Linked DNA regions of Homo sapiens: region 2 is linked to region 1. A link means that fine-mapping ties the variant in region 1 to the expression of a gene that starts in the linked region. Tissue or cell type: whole blood. Region 1 holds a variant in brackets; the other region holds the start of a gene. All regions are shown on one strand. Distances are between the middles of the regions.

Region 1 (8,107 bases):
ACAGAGCTCTGCTTAACAGGAGCTAGAATAACTAGGGAACCTAACAGCAAATACACCGTTTAGGTTAGCTTGATGGTTCCCCGAGTGCACTGGGTAGACCACTGGTAATTTGAAGATGATATTTAACTGGCACATGAACAATTTTTGATAGTTTTACTACATTTTAATGCATATTTGAAAATAACTCGAAAATTCAGCAAGTTTTCATAGACATTATTGCTTAGAGCAATAATTGCTTCTTTAACAGAGATAACTTAAATAAAAGTATTAAGTAAATAACATACCCACATGTGGCATCTTGATGCATAGGGCAAAAAGCATTAAGATGGTTCTCAAATGACTGAAGTTTGGAACAAATAGATTAATTATAATAATGGCGATTACAGTTTGATGAGTTTGGAAAAAAAGCTATTAAGAGCCATCAATTAGTAAATCTGTTCCTTCCGTATCCTCAATCCCACTTTTCCCTCCAACGAATTGTGCCCCACTGACTTCAAGTGTCTTCAAGAGGTATGTAAATAGACTAATAATATTGTGTTGGGCTGTAAGTCTACCTATTCCTGCAAGGAGTACATAAATCACCTTCATAAGAAGCTATGATTTTGGTTTAAGGACATGGTGAAACCCCGTCTCTACTGAAAATACAAAAATTAGCCCGGTGTGGTGGCGTGCACCTGTAATCTCAGCTACTTGGGAGGTTGAGGCAGAAGAATTGCTTGAACCAGGGAGGTGGAGGTTGCAGTGAGCCAAGATCACACCACTGCACTCCAGTCTGGGGCAACAGAGTGAGACTCCATCTCAAAAAAAAAAAAAAAAAAAAAAGAAGGAAGGGGTTGGGCTATATTATTTATCTTAGACTCTTTCTTTCTTCCCTATTTACTCTCGGTGAGCCATTTTCATTTGTTTACTCAGCAAAAGTGCACTAATGCCTGCTATGAGCCAGGCACTCTTCCAGCAGCTAAGAAAACCAAGATAAAGACACCATGGGCTCTGCCTCCAGGGAGCTCCCTTTTGGGCCATATACATAGTCATCTCATTTCCTAACTCATCGGCCCTAGTCCACCCAGTTATTTTAACAAGGGGAGGACTTTTGAGGAAGTTTTCAATATGTTCAGTGTGTGTGTGTGTGTGTGTGTGTGTGTGTGTGTGTGTGTGTGTATGTATGTAAGGAGGGTTCCTTCAGGCAAATATGTCCAACTAGAGTATTCGCATTTGTGGTTTACACATCATGTAGAAAAAGCAAGGCTAGATATCTGGCCTTTCATGTATGATGGAGCCAAGAAGCCTCAATCATGCTGCATTAATACCCCATTGCACACAATATACACACAGAAGGCAACCAGATCTCTGTGGCCACAGACAGAACTGGGCCACTCTTTCCCAGGTGCTGCAGGTACAAACCTCTCATTCCCAATAGGAATGAGATATCCATTCACTCATACCTCACACGGAAAAATAATTCACCTATTTCTGGGCTGAAATGGCCATGGACTAATCCCAAGATGCTCAATGGTAGAGGCTGTTGAATTTGCCTCTGGCAGAAACTGAAGGAAACTGAAGGCAGACTGTGTCTGTCACCGCTGGAAACAAAGGTCACAGATGCCACTGAGCAATTCTTTCTGCATACACAGCCCAAAGATCAACAAGCTGACACTAAGGAGACTTAAAAAGTTGCTCTCTGTGGTTCTTAGTACAGCCAAATCCATTTCCCTCACATTTAGAAGTATGGAAGCAGTTATTTCAGCAGAACTTATGTCGGTGCTTCTGGTTGGGCATGAATTCCTAACTATGCATTCCTATACATCATTCTGTACTCACCGACTAATCAGCCAACACTCAAAACACCAAAACAAACAAACAAACAAAAAACATATTTATGCAACAAAACATTATGTGATTATTCCTTTGAGACCAAAATCCTTTGATTTGAAATGTCAGTTATTTAACTCTACAGTTTGACCAAAGAAACTTACCCAATAATCCCACAATTCTGTTTGTGGTCACCAGTTCTATTGTCTTGGAGAAAAAATGGAGACAGAGCTCTGCTTCATAGAAGCCAGAATAACTAGAAAACCTAACAGCAAACATACTGTTTAGGTTAGCTCGATGTTTCCCCAAGTGCACTGGGTAGACCACTGGTAATATGAAGATGGTATTTAACTGGCACATGAACAATTTTTAATAGTTTTACTACATTTAATGCATATTTGAAAATATACTTAACTCGAAAATTCAACAAGTTTTCATAGACATTATTGCTTAGGGCAATAATTGCTTCTTTAACACAGAGATAATTTAAATAAAAGTATTAAGTAAAAAATATACCCACATGTGGCATCTTGATACATATGGCAAAAAGCATTAAGATGGTTCTCAAATGACTGAAGTTTGGAACAAATAGATTAATTATAATAACGGCGATTACAGTTTGATGAGTTTGGGGAAAAAAGCTATTAACTGCCATCAATTAGTATACCTGTTCCTTCCATATCCTCGATCCCACTTTTCCCTCCAATGAATTGTGCCCCACTGACTTCAAGTGTCTTCAAGAGGTATGTAAATAGACTAATAACATTGTGTTGGGCTGTAAAAGTAAGTCTACTTATTCTTGCAAGGAGTACATAAATCACCTTCATAAGAAGCTATGATTTTGATTTAAGGATGTTTTCTCTGTTAATGAATAATGCTAAATGTCCAGAAAACATCAAATCCAAGGGGAAAAGATTCTGGATTATTGCACTGTGGTTCGTGCCCTCCTGTGGCTTCAGAGTTTCGCTACATTTAAGAATCTAAAACCAGATTCCTAAGTTACAGACTATAAAATATGGCAGATAATGACAAACGAGCTATGTGTGAAAAGGAAGCACCACAAGAAAGTGAGATCATTTGACATGACCTAATCCCTTTGTTGAGTGGAATGGGATACCAATACGGCCAACGAGGCATTGGGTCAATGATTAGGAATAATCAGATGTCCAATTCATAAAGCATATGATTTGCAGGGGTTTTGGTTAAAATGTTAACAAATCACGTGAGACATTTGCATTTTAAGTTTTA[T/A]TTTTATCAAAACAAAATAATTTAACCATATAAAGAAAGAAAGTTCAACAAACAACCAAGAAGCCAATCATTTCCCTGATTGTGAACAACCAATTGAGTAGTAAATCCTGAACAGTTGACCGCATATACAAGACATTCCGTCATCCTCTAGTGCTCCAAGTGGCAGAGGCTGATGTTTTTCCCTGGTTCCTATTCTTCCAGTGGTGAAGTAATGTGCTCAACTGTTCCTATACTTCTTCAGACCAAATTATGTATATTCCTACGTAAGTGCAAAGCATGGATGAAAAGAATCATACAGGGTAGAAATCCAGCACATAAGATTTTCTAGGTTCTGACCCTTATATTTAATGGGTTCTGAAAAATAAGGACAATAAATTGTGCTTAAATATTGAGAAATGTAGTGTTTCAAAAGCCAAAGTGCCTCCCTACATGAACTATGGGAAGAACAACTGAAGTGAGGAAAAATACACAAGCCCAGCTTGCTGCAGCAGTAGAAATATGATCACCCATAGAGCCAGGCAGGTCATATTCTCCTCACCATATTAAATTATGTCTGGGGAGTTGAGCAGCAGCACATTCCGATAATGATGACAGTTTCCATAACTATAAAGATCTGCTGCACCAGGCAAATTCTGTGCAAAATGCAAATTTCTGTGCTGGGGAAAAAAATGAATAATGTGATCATTCTAAGTAATGAATGTAAATGCAAGGAAATACTTTTTGGCATGAGACTGCAAATTGTTTATCTTTCATGCCAAGAACTGTGGTCACAGTGCACTTCTGCAAGGTTCCTCTTCCGGTCTCAGCTTTAGAAGAGTGATTTCAGGAAGAAAAAGTCTGTCTTGCCCTAGGTTACCCACCATGCTATTGGCAGTGTTTCCATTAAAATTCAGAGACACCCTCCTCCATCTTTTTTTTTAATCACTTGGCAAATGAACCATAGGTTCTCCTGGTTACTGTGAGATGTGAACCAAAGGGGATTATTAGCTTTGTCTCAAATCTCAAGGGTTAAGCCTAACAGGAGAGATGAGCTGTTTTTCAATGTGTTTTACAAGAAGGAGGATTCCAGTTGTCCACCAAAAATCACATGACTTTGAGTCACTTAACAATGTAGGTTGCCAAGGAGGGAAGGATTGAAACCTCTTCCCTCCATACATCTTTAACGACAAGATCTAGCTGGGTGTAGGTACAGGTGGAGAGAGAAACCTGGTGAGTCTTGAACATCATGGGGAAATGTCACTTTTGATATTGGCAAAAAAAAATTCAGTGCCCTTCCCTTAGTTCATGACAGCATCCCTCTAACTATTCTCTGTGGAAGAAACTGAGGCATCAGTTGGTTAAGACCCTTACCTAAAGATATAATAAAATTAACACTGGGAAAATTAGCACTGGGGAAAGAAGGAAATCCCTGATCTTTAAACTCTGGTTTGCTTTGTTCTAAAATAAATTTGTTTTTCCTTAACCATCATGCAGTACACACTTGCAGAGTATAAAACTGTGGTAGTTATCAATTGATAATACTGACATTTTATTTTTAGTAACCCAAACTGGGTTCTAGGTTGTTAATGTTACCCTTAAAATGTATTCTTATAATTGTATTTCACTTTAAGAAAACCCATAGGAAAATTAAGATTTATAAAATCAGAGATTGTTCATTGCTTTATAAAAAGATTCTTCATTTAAAAAAAATCTTTACCTTAGGATGCTTTTAAAGAGCCAGCTCCCTTAGGGTCATTCAAAATACATTTTTAATTTTTAAAAAATCCATTGACATACAGCTTTTTCACAAATTCATGTTGATATAAAGTAAGGTACACTTGTAAACATTGCCAGCCACTAGGCAAAGACCAGGGAAGCAAGGTGGCTTCGCTACCTGCTTTACCTTTGTAAGAGATACAGGGAGTTAGAGACGAAATCAATATTCCGCCATATTTGACCTAGGTTGGGATGTGACAGCTGGCAACGGTGGCTCCTATAGGGACAGAGCTTCCACCATCATCCTGAAGTTGGTGCTGTTTGGAGCTATGACTTACTGATTTACAGCCAGTGACCCCGTTGATTCCACAGTAGCCACCCAGAAAGGAGGGGTCTGGAAGACAGCTTTTTTCCCCTGACCAGTGCCTCCTAAGACAAAGGAGCCAGTTCAGCCTACAGATAGGTTTTCTCCATTCCTACTGGAGAGTTCTGGTTTTGCTTTTAATTTTTTGAACTATGAGCCACATGTATAGGCTGGATGATTGCACCCTAAAATCTGGAACTCTGGGGAAAAAATTAGATGGAGCTTCTTCAGGCTCAGGTTCTTCACAGCAATAATTGGTGGAAGGTGCTTGTGTTTCAGTTCCTCACTGTCCCCACCCAAACTTCTTGCATGCAAGGCCTCCGTGGCAATGGTTCCCCATGGGGAATATCTTCAAGCCATTGAGTCCATGCATTTTAAGGAGAGAGCAGCTTCTCTATCAACCATTCTCAGAAAAATTGGAACCTGGAGATACATTCGTCTTGTCCAACTCTCTTATTCTCACTTAGGGAAACTAAGGTACAGAAAGACTCTTAACCAAGATTTCCCAGCTAAAGTCAGGACTTCAATCTCCATCCAAGGCTCAGACCATTTGCCTACACTGCCTCTCTCATTACAGTGGCATGAATCCTTCGAAAAGGGAGATAATCACCACATCGCTTTTGTTGGGTTTAAAAAGTACACTAAGTCAATGTCCAACATCCTTTTTACCTCCCTTCTTATGTTTTTCTTGGCTGGGCCTGAAATCCTTGGATATTTATGAGTGCATATGAAATGGTCACAAATATATGCTAAGTAACCAGGGAAGCTGGTCTGGCATTGAAGTTTTCTATGAAAAACACCAAAATTGGAAAATTCACATGAAGATACTTGAAATTTGACCATACTTAGTCACAGGCACAGACTGACTGAAGTGTATTCACATGTGTGAGATGCTCTGCATTGCTGCTGTGTCTCTGAAGTACAAGATGTCATATGAACATCATTACATCAAAGTTACACCAAAAGAGCTCAGCTACAAATTTCAAATTGTACAAAATCATACCAAAAGCAAGTATAAAATTTTATTGAAATGCAGCAATGTAAACCTCTTTAAGTTTCTCCTCTCCCGTGGAAGGAGAGGGAGAGGAAGGCAGTGGAACTGAGGCTTTGCCCCCCGGGCTGGCTGACGTAGATCTGTTTTCTTCTGCACAGGGGCGCACCGGCTTGGAATACTGGGGAATTTTCTCTGTGCAGTTCTGACGTGCACAATACAGAGGCTGATTTAATTTGACAGCAAAGTAACACTAAGCCCCGAAAATAAAATTACCGAGATGTAAAACAGCGTCAAAACTCCAATTAGTTTTGTATCCTTGAAGCTTCTGAAGGAAATCTAAAAGGCTCCCGTCACGACGAGCAGGCATCAGTTGAAGCTGTACAGATTACTAAAATGTAACCCTCTAATTGAAATTGCTCAGAGCACAATATGACAAGAAGAATCAGAGGAAAATAAGTGAATTTTTCCCTCTCAAAAAATGACTCATTACAGAGAGACAGTTCTATTAACTTTTAACACCGTTCCTTTGCAAGAACTAGAAAAACCGACAGTCTCAGAGATCTCCACAGCAAACGCACCAGGCACAAGAGCATGTGCTTGCATCATCTGACCATAAATAAGCATTGACCATTTGTGCAACATTTAAAAGTAATCAGCATGTCACCGGATCATAGGCATTTTGAAGTGTATTTACAACTCCACCAAGGACGTGAATTACTCTGAACAAGCTTCAGTTTTTTAATGTATCTGAATTTTGTCTCCAAAATGAACAGAAGTATCTTTGTGCCCAGTTCACACCCCCGTCTCTTTGTCAAGCTACTCCAATTATCCCAAGTGTGCTCTCCACCTTGGAAGCAAATCCTCAGTTTACTAATGGAGAAAGCCAGTTGCCTCGACTGTGTGGGGTCCACTTGTGGAGAAATGTGTTGATGGTGGCTTTCTTGGTTAGTGCCATTTGATTGCAGAGAGGCAGTGGGGGACAGGTGCAGAAGACGAGGCTGGGAGTCAAGGCCCAGTCACTGTGCACGTTGACCATTTGCAGAGTTTGCTTCCTTGCCATGTCTGCCCTGCCTGGCACCATTTGAAGATGAGCAGAGCACTCCCAAGGGGAGCTGGGGAACGCTGCGGCTGAGTTGGGGGTCAGAAGTTGGTTGGAGTTGGCTTGTAAATAACTCAAAATGGCTTTCCTAATCTGTAGGTGTTTCACAGATAGAGTTTAGTTCTTCCGCCAGCCTGACAACATTTACTTGTGAAGCGTCAACAGTCTTTTTGACCAGACACCATGTTTCTCTGGAAGCTTCATATTTCTATAACTAATCGGTCTTCATCGTCGCTGCTGGTGTCACTGAACTCTACTCGAGTTTGCTTTCTCATTCCTTCCAGACTCCTCTTCTTGAGGGATTTAGAAGGGGCTTCAGGAATTTCTATGGGCTGCTCTGGCTTAGAAGGAACCACAGAATCTTTCCGAGTGATTAATCCAGATACCTGACGTTTCCTACCGTCACTTCCTAAAGAGGGGCAGGGGACAGTCATTTCCCCACACCCATACTGGCCTCTGGAAGGAAAAAACGTCTTGTGTCTCCCTTCCTTGTGGTGTGAACTAGCTGAACTTGGTCCTGAAGCTGGTATTTCAAGATGAGTTTTTTCAGTTGACTCCAGTGGAACCGAATCTGAAATTCTTTGTCCAGATGAAGGTCTCCCTGGCAAGAGGGTCTGTGCTCTGCCCTCTTCTGTGACTTTGCTGTCTGGGGAGCTTGATGTCAGAGTCCTCCCTGCAGTCTGGCTGTGGTCTCGTGATTCAGCACTGTGAATTTCCTGGGCTATGTGATCTGTTCTCACTGGCAGAGAAATACAAACGGCAGCCACAGAGGTAGCAATGTCATGGTGGGGAAAAGTTCCTTTGGACCCAAAGGAAGAAGGCCTTTGAGCATCTGAGAAGATGTATGGTTTGGGATCTGTTGAGACTGAATCCTGGGAGGCCAGCAGCTGAGTCTCCA
Region 2 (8,107 bases), 94 kb after region 1:
CAAGACTGTATTGTCAGAATAGACACAGACATGAGTAGAACAAAATAATTAAAAAAAAAAACATAAATCAATCTGCACAAATATACCCAACTGATTTTTTTTTCTTTTGAGATGGAGTCTTGCTCTGTCACCCAGGCTGGAGTGCAGTGGCACGATCTCAGCTCAGTGCAACCTCTGCCTCCTGGGTTCAAGCAATTCTCCTGCCTCAGCCAACTGATTTTTTGACAAAGGTTGAAAGCAGTTCTGTAGAGAGAGTGTAGATGTTTCAACAAATGATGCTGAAACAATTGACTTCCGCAGGCAAAAGAAAAAAGAAAAAAAAAACCTTGACCTAAACCTCACATCTTACTTATATAGAAATTAACTCAAAATATTTAAAACAGTCTTAAATGTGAAATATAAAACTGTAAAAGCTTAGGGGAAAAAAAGCACAGGAGAAAATCTTTAGGACTTCTAAAGTGGGAAAGAGTTCCTAGACTTGAAACAAAAAGTATGAGCCATAAAAGGAAAATATAATAAAATGGACCTCATCGAAGTTAATTTTTTTTTTTTTGCTCTGTGCAAACCCCTGCTTATAATAAGAGAATAAAAAACTAGCTACAGATCTGGAGAAAGTATTCACAAACAACATATCTGACAAGGGACTTATATTTAAAATCTATACAGAACTATGAAAATTTAACAGTTAAAAAAAAACCAACAACAATCCAATTAGAAAGTGTGCAAACACATGAAGCAAGTTATCACCAAAAACGGTATACAGCCAGCAGATAAGCACACGAAAAGGTGTTCAACATCTTTAGCCACCTGGGAAATATAAATTAAAGCCACAATAAAATATCACTTCACACCTGTCAGAATGGCTAGAATAAAAAATAGTGAAACAGCAAATGCTGGCGAGGATCTGGAAACACTGCCCACGTTGCCAGGATCCATTTCGGTGTGGATGTGAAGTGGCACAGCCATTCTGGAAAAAAGGGTGGCCATTTCTTAACAAATCAAACATGGGACTATTATTCAACCCAGCAACTGCACTCCTGGGCATTTATTTCACAATGAAAACTTACGTTCACACAAAAGCTTGTACATGAATGTTTCTAAAGCTTTATTTGTAATAGTCAAAAATTGGCATCAGCCCAGATGCCCTTCAACAATGAATATTTAAACCAACTGTGGTACATCCATATCACAGAACACTACTGAGCAATAAAAAGAAGCATACCGTTGACACATGAAACATTTGGATGAATCTCTAGAGAATTATGCTGAATGAAAAAAGTCAGTCCCCAAAGGCTACACACCACACTGAATGATTCCATTCATATAACATTCTTGAAATGACAAATTATAAAACTGGAGGACAGACTAGTGATTGCTTGGGGTTAAGGGGTTGGGGGGGAGAGAGAGAGGAGGAGAGCAGGAGGGATTTGGGGTGTCCACGACGCATCCTTGCGGTGACAGAAATGTTCTGTATCTTGACTATATCACTGTCAATATTTTGATTGTGATTTGCAAGATGTTGCTATTGGAGGAAACTGGGTAAAAAACACATGGGATCTCTCTGTATTTTTTTCTTACAACTGCAGGTGAATCTGCAATGTTCTCAAAACAAAGAGGCTAATTTATGAAAGTAATAAATACGTAAATAGAATCAAAACAGGAACAACCTTCCCAGTGTGTGAGTCAATGTTATTTACTGCAGCATCCATAGTGTATCTAGAACCGACCCTAGCCACGAGTACCACAGCCTACCCTTGGAGAAACACCGACTCTGCACAGACCATTTTCCTTTCATTTTCTTTATATCAACTCACTTTTTCTTATGTACCCTTATATATTCAAAGGAAAATTGACATCACTACCATTTACCATATCTGGAAAAGCTCCAACATTGCTATGAATACAAAGTGATCATAAAGAAACTACAAGGGGCTGGGTGTGGTAGCTCACGCCTGTAATCTCAGCACTTTGGGAGGCCGAGGCAGATAGATCACCTGAGGTCAAGCGTTAGAGACCAGCCTAGCCAAAATGGCGAAACCCCTTCTCTACTAAAAATACAAAAAAATTAGCCAGTTGTGGTGGTGAGCACCTATAATCCCAGCTACTCAGGAGGCTGAGGCAGAAGAATCGCTTTAACCCAGAAGGTAGAGGTTGTAGTGAGCTGATCATGCCACTGCACTCCAACCTGGGTGACAGAGCGAGATTACAGCTCCAAAAAAGAAAAAAAGAAGAAAAAAAAAGGAACTACAAGGAAAGCAATGAAAACATACAAAGATCTCTCACTTGGTAACAAGCCAGTACTGAGAACAAGCTTCCTACCTATGCCCCAAAGTCACTCTGCAGAAATCCCTGAGTGTGACCTTCCAGCATAACTCAGCCTTCCCTGCCATGCCACACCCAGACAGGCAGCATGGTGGGTAAAGTTCCCAGACCCTGGAGATAAGACCTGTCTTTGAACCTTTGCTCTGCTACCTATAAACCCTGTAACCTGGAATAAGTCACTTAAACTCTCCATGCTGTGTTTTCCTTATCTGAAAAGTGGGGCTCATGTTCATTTGTTCAAAGGATTGGATAAAACCATAGATGTGATTTGTCCAGACGTGGTAGACTCTCCCTGTGTCTGTTCCTGCCCCACTCCCCTAACCAAACAGCCTACCCTACCTCCCTTTTACAGTCTTGGTTCTCTGCTTACATGATGTTCATGGTCTCTACCAGGAGAAAAGTCTCTCTAGCTGGTAACTCCACGGCGCCTGATAGTGAGCCCATTTCCCCTAGGCAGGTGCTTTTGGGTAACCCTGCTCACATGGCACTCCTCCTTCAGGACCAACCCTCCCCAGCTTCCCAGCGGAAGCACAGCTAAGGAAGCAAATCTCACAGACCCCAACATTGCCACAGAACCTAAGTGTTCTCTCTGATTAATATTAGCCTATGGTCCTAAATACTTGCTCTTAGCTGGGGCAATAAAGCGAGGGTGGTTAAAAGGCATATTATTTTAAACTGGCCCTGACGTTGATTCTGTTTTTCCCAGTCAGCTAATGTTACCATTTTTCTAAGTTGCATCCTGTCCCTCGTTGCATTTTGGTAGATAACATCTCTGGTTTCATTCTTACAGAAAGATTTGCTACGGGAAAGGAGAAACACGTTACCTCTCAGAGCATGGCTTCCATGGCTGATCTGAGATAGCCTCCAGCTCTTTGCTATTTTGGATACTGGGAAGTCAGATATGTGTATAAATACATGGACTATTGGCCCTTGTAAATCTCATTGAAAAATGCTACCCTTGGGTGGCTGATCAGTAGAATTGCTATAAATAGTAGCTCTATCAAATACCTTGATATTTCAATTATATTATATACAAATAAAAAACTTGGCCTAATAAAACATACATATATATGTGTATATATATACCACACATACTTGGGCTAATATGTTCTAACCAATTCACACTTTCAGTTTAATTAGGTTCATCACTGGGAAAAAAAACAGTTTATAAAGCAATAAATTTTCTTATAAATGTTTTTCTGTTTAGTAGAACATGGATTGTGGACCTGGTTTCTGACAGCCATTTTGAATTGTAGTAAATATTTTGACAAAAGCAACAGCAGTATTAAGCACATGAGAGAATTACTTGAACTGGGTCACACACAGTTTTACGTAGCATTTTCCCTTTAACTGCGTGCTTGAAGATAAATATATCATTAAGAACATAGAGTAAAAGAGTTTTTTTTTAACTGACATTTTATATATGCTTATGTCATGGAGCATGTTACATACCTTTATAAACAGTGGAGTGTTTTCAGCCAATGATGCTCTGATTCAAACACAATGATCTGGTTGCCCAGAGAAGACACCCACAGGTCCAGAAAGGACCACTGGGCTGGCCCCACAGAGAAGAGATGAGCTCAAGAGCCCGTGCTCTCACTCTCTGTAGGGAGCTCGCTACTCTTTGCTGAGAGGGCATTTTAGTGTTCTCTCCCAGTTCCTACTCTGCAGGCAGCATCTCAGAGAACGGAGAGATGCTCCCTGAGCCTTAGAAAATAAAATAAAATAAAAGAGGGCAGCCTCCTGTGGCTTGGCCTTTATGTCAAGTCCACGTTTAACTGAGAAAAGCACCATTTCAAGCAACCTGGAAGAGACTCAAGCAGAGATAAAACTTGGTATGGCCCAGAAATAGGAAGTAAATTATTTCCTATACATTACCTAACGTCACGGTAGCAACCCTTAGAAAACAGGAAGAGATAGAAGCAGACACGAAAAAAAAAAAAAAAGAGCCACCGCTCAGCTCTTTAGTAATTGTTACTATTGACCTAACAACCTATAAAGAGCTTGCTGCCCAGAAATGTAGGTGTGCAAAAAAACATTGCATTAGAGATGAGGTTGTTCTGTGCAGGCAAGTTTAAGAATTAGAGCCTAGGTGGTCGTTTTCCTGGAGATGTGGATGGAACAAGTGTTTGCAGAACCTCCACATGTAACCCCAGAGGTTCCTGAGGGCCCAGAATGAGCATTTCCACTGCAATTGACTATGGTGGGAGGTCCCAGTGAAAGATTTCTGCGATGCTGTCTTTATGTAAAATGGTGATATTTTGTTCAACATGGATTTGTTTGAATTAGGTTTTATTTTTAAGATATGGCACTGATCACTCTATTCAACATAGTACTGAAAATCCTAGCCAGAGCAATCAGGCAAGAGAAAGAAATAAAAGGCATCCAAATAGGAAAAGAGGAAGTCAAGTTATCTCTCTTCACTGATGATATGATTCTATATCTAGAAAACCCTAAAGTTGCCACCAAAAGACTCCTAGACCCAATGAATGACTTCAGTAGTTTAAGGATACAAAAATCAATGTACAAAAATCAGTAGCATTTCTATACACCAGTAATGTTCAAGCCGAGAGCCAAATCAAGAACACAATCCCATTTACAATAGCAACACACACACACACACACACACACACACACACACACACCTAGGAATACATCTAACCAAGGAGGTGAAAGATCTCTACAAGGAGAACTACAAAATACTACTGAAAGAAAACAAACAAATGATAAAACACTCCATGCTCATGGATTATAAGACTCAATATCATTAAAATGTCCATACTGCTCAAAGCAATTCAACACTATTCCTATCAAATTACCAATGTCATTTTTCACAGAATTAGAAAAAAACTATTCCAGAATTCATATGGAACCAAAAAGGAGCCCGAATAGCCAAAGCAATCCTAAGCAAAAATAACAAAGCCAGAGGCATCACATTATCTGACTTCAAACTATACTACAAGGCCACAATAACCAACACAGCATGGTATTGGTATAAAAATAGACACACAGACCAATGGAACAGAATAGAGAACCCAGAAATAAAGCTGCACACCTAAAACCAACTGATTTTCAACAAAGTCAACAAAAATAAACAGTGAAAGAAAGGACCCCCTATTCAATAAATGGTGCTGGGGAAACTAGCTAACCATATGCAGAAGAATGTTGAATAGAGTGATTAGTGCCACTCTAATTCCAGAATGAAACTGGACTCTTACCTCTCAATATATACAAAAATTAACCCAAAATGAATTAAATACTTAAATGTAAGACTTCAAACTATAAAAATCCTACAAGAAAACCAAGGAAATACTCTTCTGAATGTCAGCCTAGACAAAGAATTTAAGACTAAGTCCTCAAAAGCAAATGCAACAAAAATAAATATTGACAACTGGTACCTAATTAAACCAAAGTGTTTCTATGTAGCAAAAGAAATAATCAACAATGTAAACAGACAACCTATGGAATGGGAGAAACGATTTGCAAACTATGCAGCCAACAGAGGTCTAATATTCAGAATCTATAAGGAACTTAAACAAACAACAACAAAACCATTAAAAAGTGAGCAAAGGTCATGAAGAGACACTTCTCAAAAGAAGACATGCAAGCAGCCAACAAGCATATTTTAAAAATGCTCATCATCTCTGATTATCAGAGAAATGCAAATCAAAACCACAATGAGATACCATCTCACAGCAGTCAGAATGGCTATGACTAAAAAGTCAAAAAATAACAGATGTTGGTGAGGTTGCAGAAAAAAAAGGGAACACTCACACATTGTTGGTGGGAATGTAAATTAGTTCAACCCCTGTGGAAAACAGTTTGGATATTTCTTAAAGGACTAAAAGTAGAACTACCATTCGACCCAGCAATCTCATTACTGGGTATCTACCCAAAGGAAGATAAATCATTCTACCAAAAAGACACCTGCACTCGTATGTTTATCACAGCACTATTCACAAATAGCAAAGGCATGGAATCAACCTGGGTGCCTGTCAACGGTAGACTGGATGAAGAAAAAGTGGCATATATACACCACGGAATATACAAAGCCATAAAAATAATAAAATCATGTATCCATGCAGCAACATGTAATCCCATGCCTGTAATCCCAGCACTTTGGGAGGCCAAGGCAGGCGGATCACTTGAGGCCAGGAGTTTGAGACTAGCCTGGCCAACATGGTGAAACCCCATTTCTACTAAAAATACAAAAAATTAGCCGGGTGTGGTGGTGCACACCTGTAGTCCCAGGTACTCAGGAGGCTGAGGCAGGATAATAGCTTGAACCCAGGAGCCAGAGGTTGCAGCAAGCTGAGATCATGCCACTGCACTCCAGCCCGGACTACAGAGCGGGACTCCATCTCAAAAAAAAACAAAAAAAAACAAAGACAGTGAGAGTGACTGTAATGTATGGGGTTTCTTTGGGGGTGTTGAAAATGTTCTGGAATTAGATCACAGTGATGGTTGCACAACCTTGTGAATATACTAGAAGCCACTGAATCCGACACTTTAAAAGGGTGAATTGCATGGTATGTGAGTTATATCAATTCAATATAACAAATAAATCCATCACTCCCATTCTAATTTTTCTAAGCACCATGGTACAGATAGACTCTCCAGAGCATGCAACCAATAACCAATGAACTAAGCATGTGGCAACAGTCACCAAAGAAAAAGAAAAATCATTTCCAAAGAATTGTTAACTTGCTTTCTCAGGCCCTTTTTTCTGAAGGAAACAAACAAACACAAAGATATCTCACTCACTTGCCAAGAGCAAGCCTCATTCGGAAAACTGCAGTCTGCATTGACTATTCTTTCAAACAAAACTACCTCATGCAGCTAGAAAAAAAAAAAAAAAGCAGCAAAACCAGGAGGAGACATGAGAAATCCTGTGTGTCCGAGGGAGACTCACGGGTAGAAAGAATAACTCTCTCATTGGCCATGCCCCTCTGGTCTTGCACCATCAGACACACATGCCAGTCCAGAAGCTGTGGTCAGGAGGAGCAGGGACACCCTTCACCTTTGCAGTTCAGTCCCTGGGCCCTTCTCCAGACCCCAAATGTGCAGTCACGTGGCAGGAAGCCCCAGGGAGAGGGGCTGGAGCAGCGCTCTGAGTGGAGCCACCTGGTACACTCAGGGCTAAGTGTGTGGCTGGGTCTCAGCAGGAAACTCGGCCTTGGGGAGCCAACGCAGCCTCACAAGCAAGCTGGGGATGAAGGAGCACCTCTGGGGCCTCAGAGGAATTCGATCAAGAGCGTCCATGAGACAAGCCCCCTGGGCTCCTGCACGGCCCCTCGCCACATCCTTCCTCCCCCCACCATCATGATCCTCTTCTGGGAATTGAACTCATGGCCCCAAGAGTATGTGTCAAATAAATGAATGGGAATAGATGGATATTTCTTGTGTCTATTTTAACCCTCTTATATATACCAAGGAACACAATTTGTGAAGACCCAAGTCCTCCCAAGGTCAGCCATGATGGGTGGTCCTCTCTCCTCTTCTGGAGTCTCCCCAGGGCTGGGCACCTGACAGCCTGTCTTTCGTTCCTGTGGATCCGTCCATTCTCTGGTCTGTGGAGCTTGGTGTCGTGAGCGACTGTAGGAATGTTCGTCTCTGCCTTGGCTGTGCCTGGCCTCACAATGGAACCCAGCATCCAGCACAGGGCCTGGCACAGAGCCAGCCCTCAGTCCACACCTGCTGAATGACAGAGAACTGCGACTCCCTCACTTCCCTGAACTTGCTGGAGAGACCACAGACTTACGCACCAGGTGGAAGCTGATGCCAA

Evidence for each region. PIP is the estimated chance that this variant, and not a neighbour inherited with it, causes the effect.
Region 2: it holds the start of ZNF831, and the variant in region 1 is fine-mapped to the expression of ZNF831 in whole blood (INTERVAL, PIP above 0.99).

The regions. Positions count from the first base shown.
Region 1 is chr20:59,254,046-59,262,152 of GRCh38, reverse strand. ZNF831 (zinc finger protein 831) reads right to left here. Exons shown (of 6, transcript NM_178457.3): 6 at 3,040-8,107. The coding sequence ends at 7,410. Among named protein-coding and RNA genes, the nearest start is that of EDN3, 43 kb to the left of the region's middle. The variant T/A (reference allele first, on the strand shown) is at 3,058.
Region 2 is chr20:59,159,875-59,167,981 of GRCh38, reverse strand. ZNF831 (zinc finger protein 831) reads right to left here and starts at 4,161. Exons shown (of 6, transcript NM_178457.3): 1 at 3,775-4,161. RefSeq lists an enhancer at 7,811-8,107.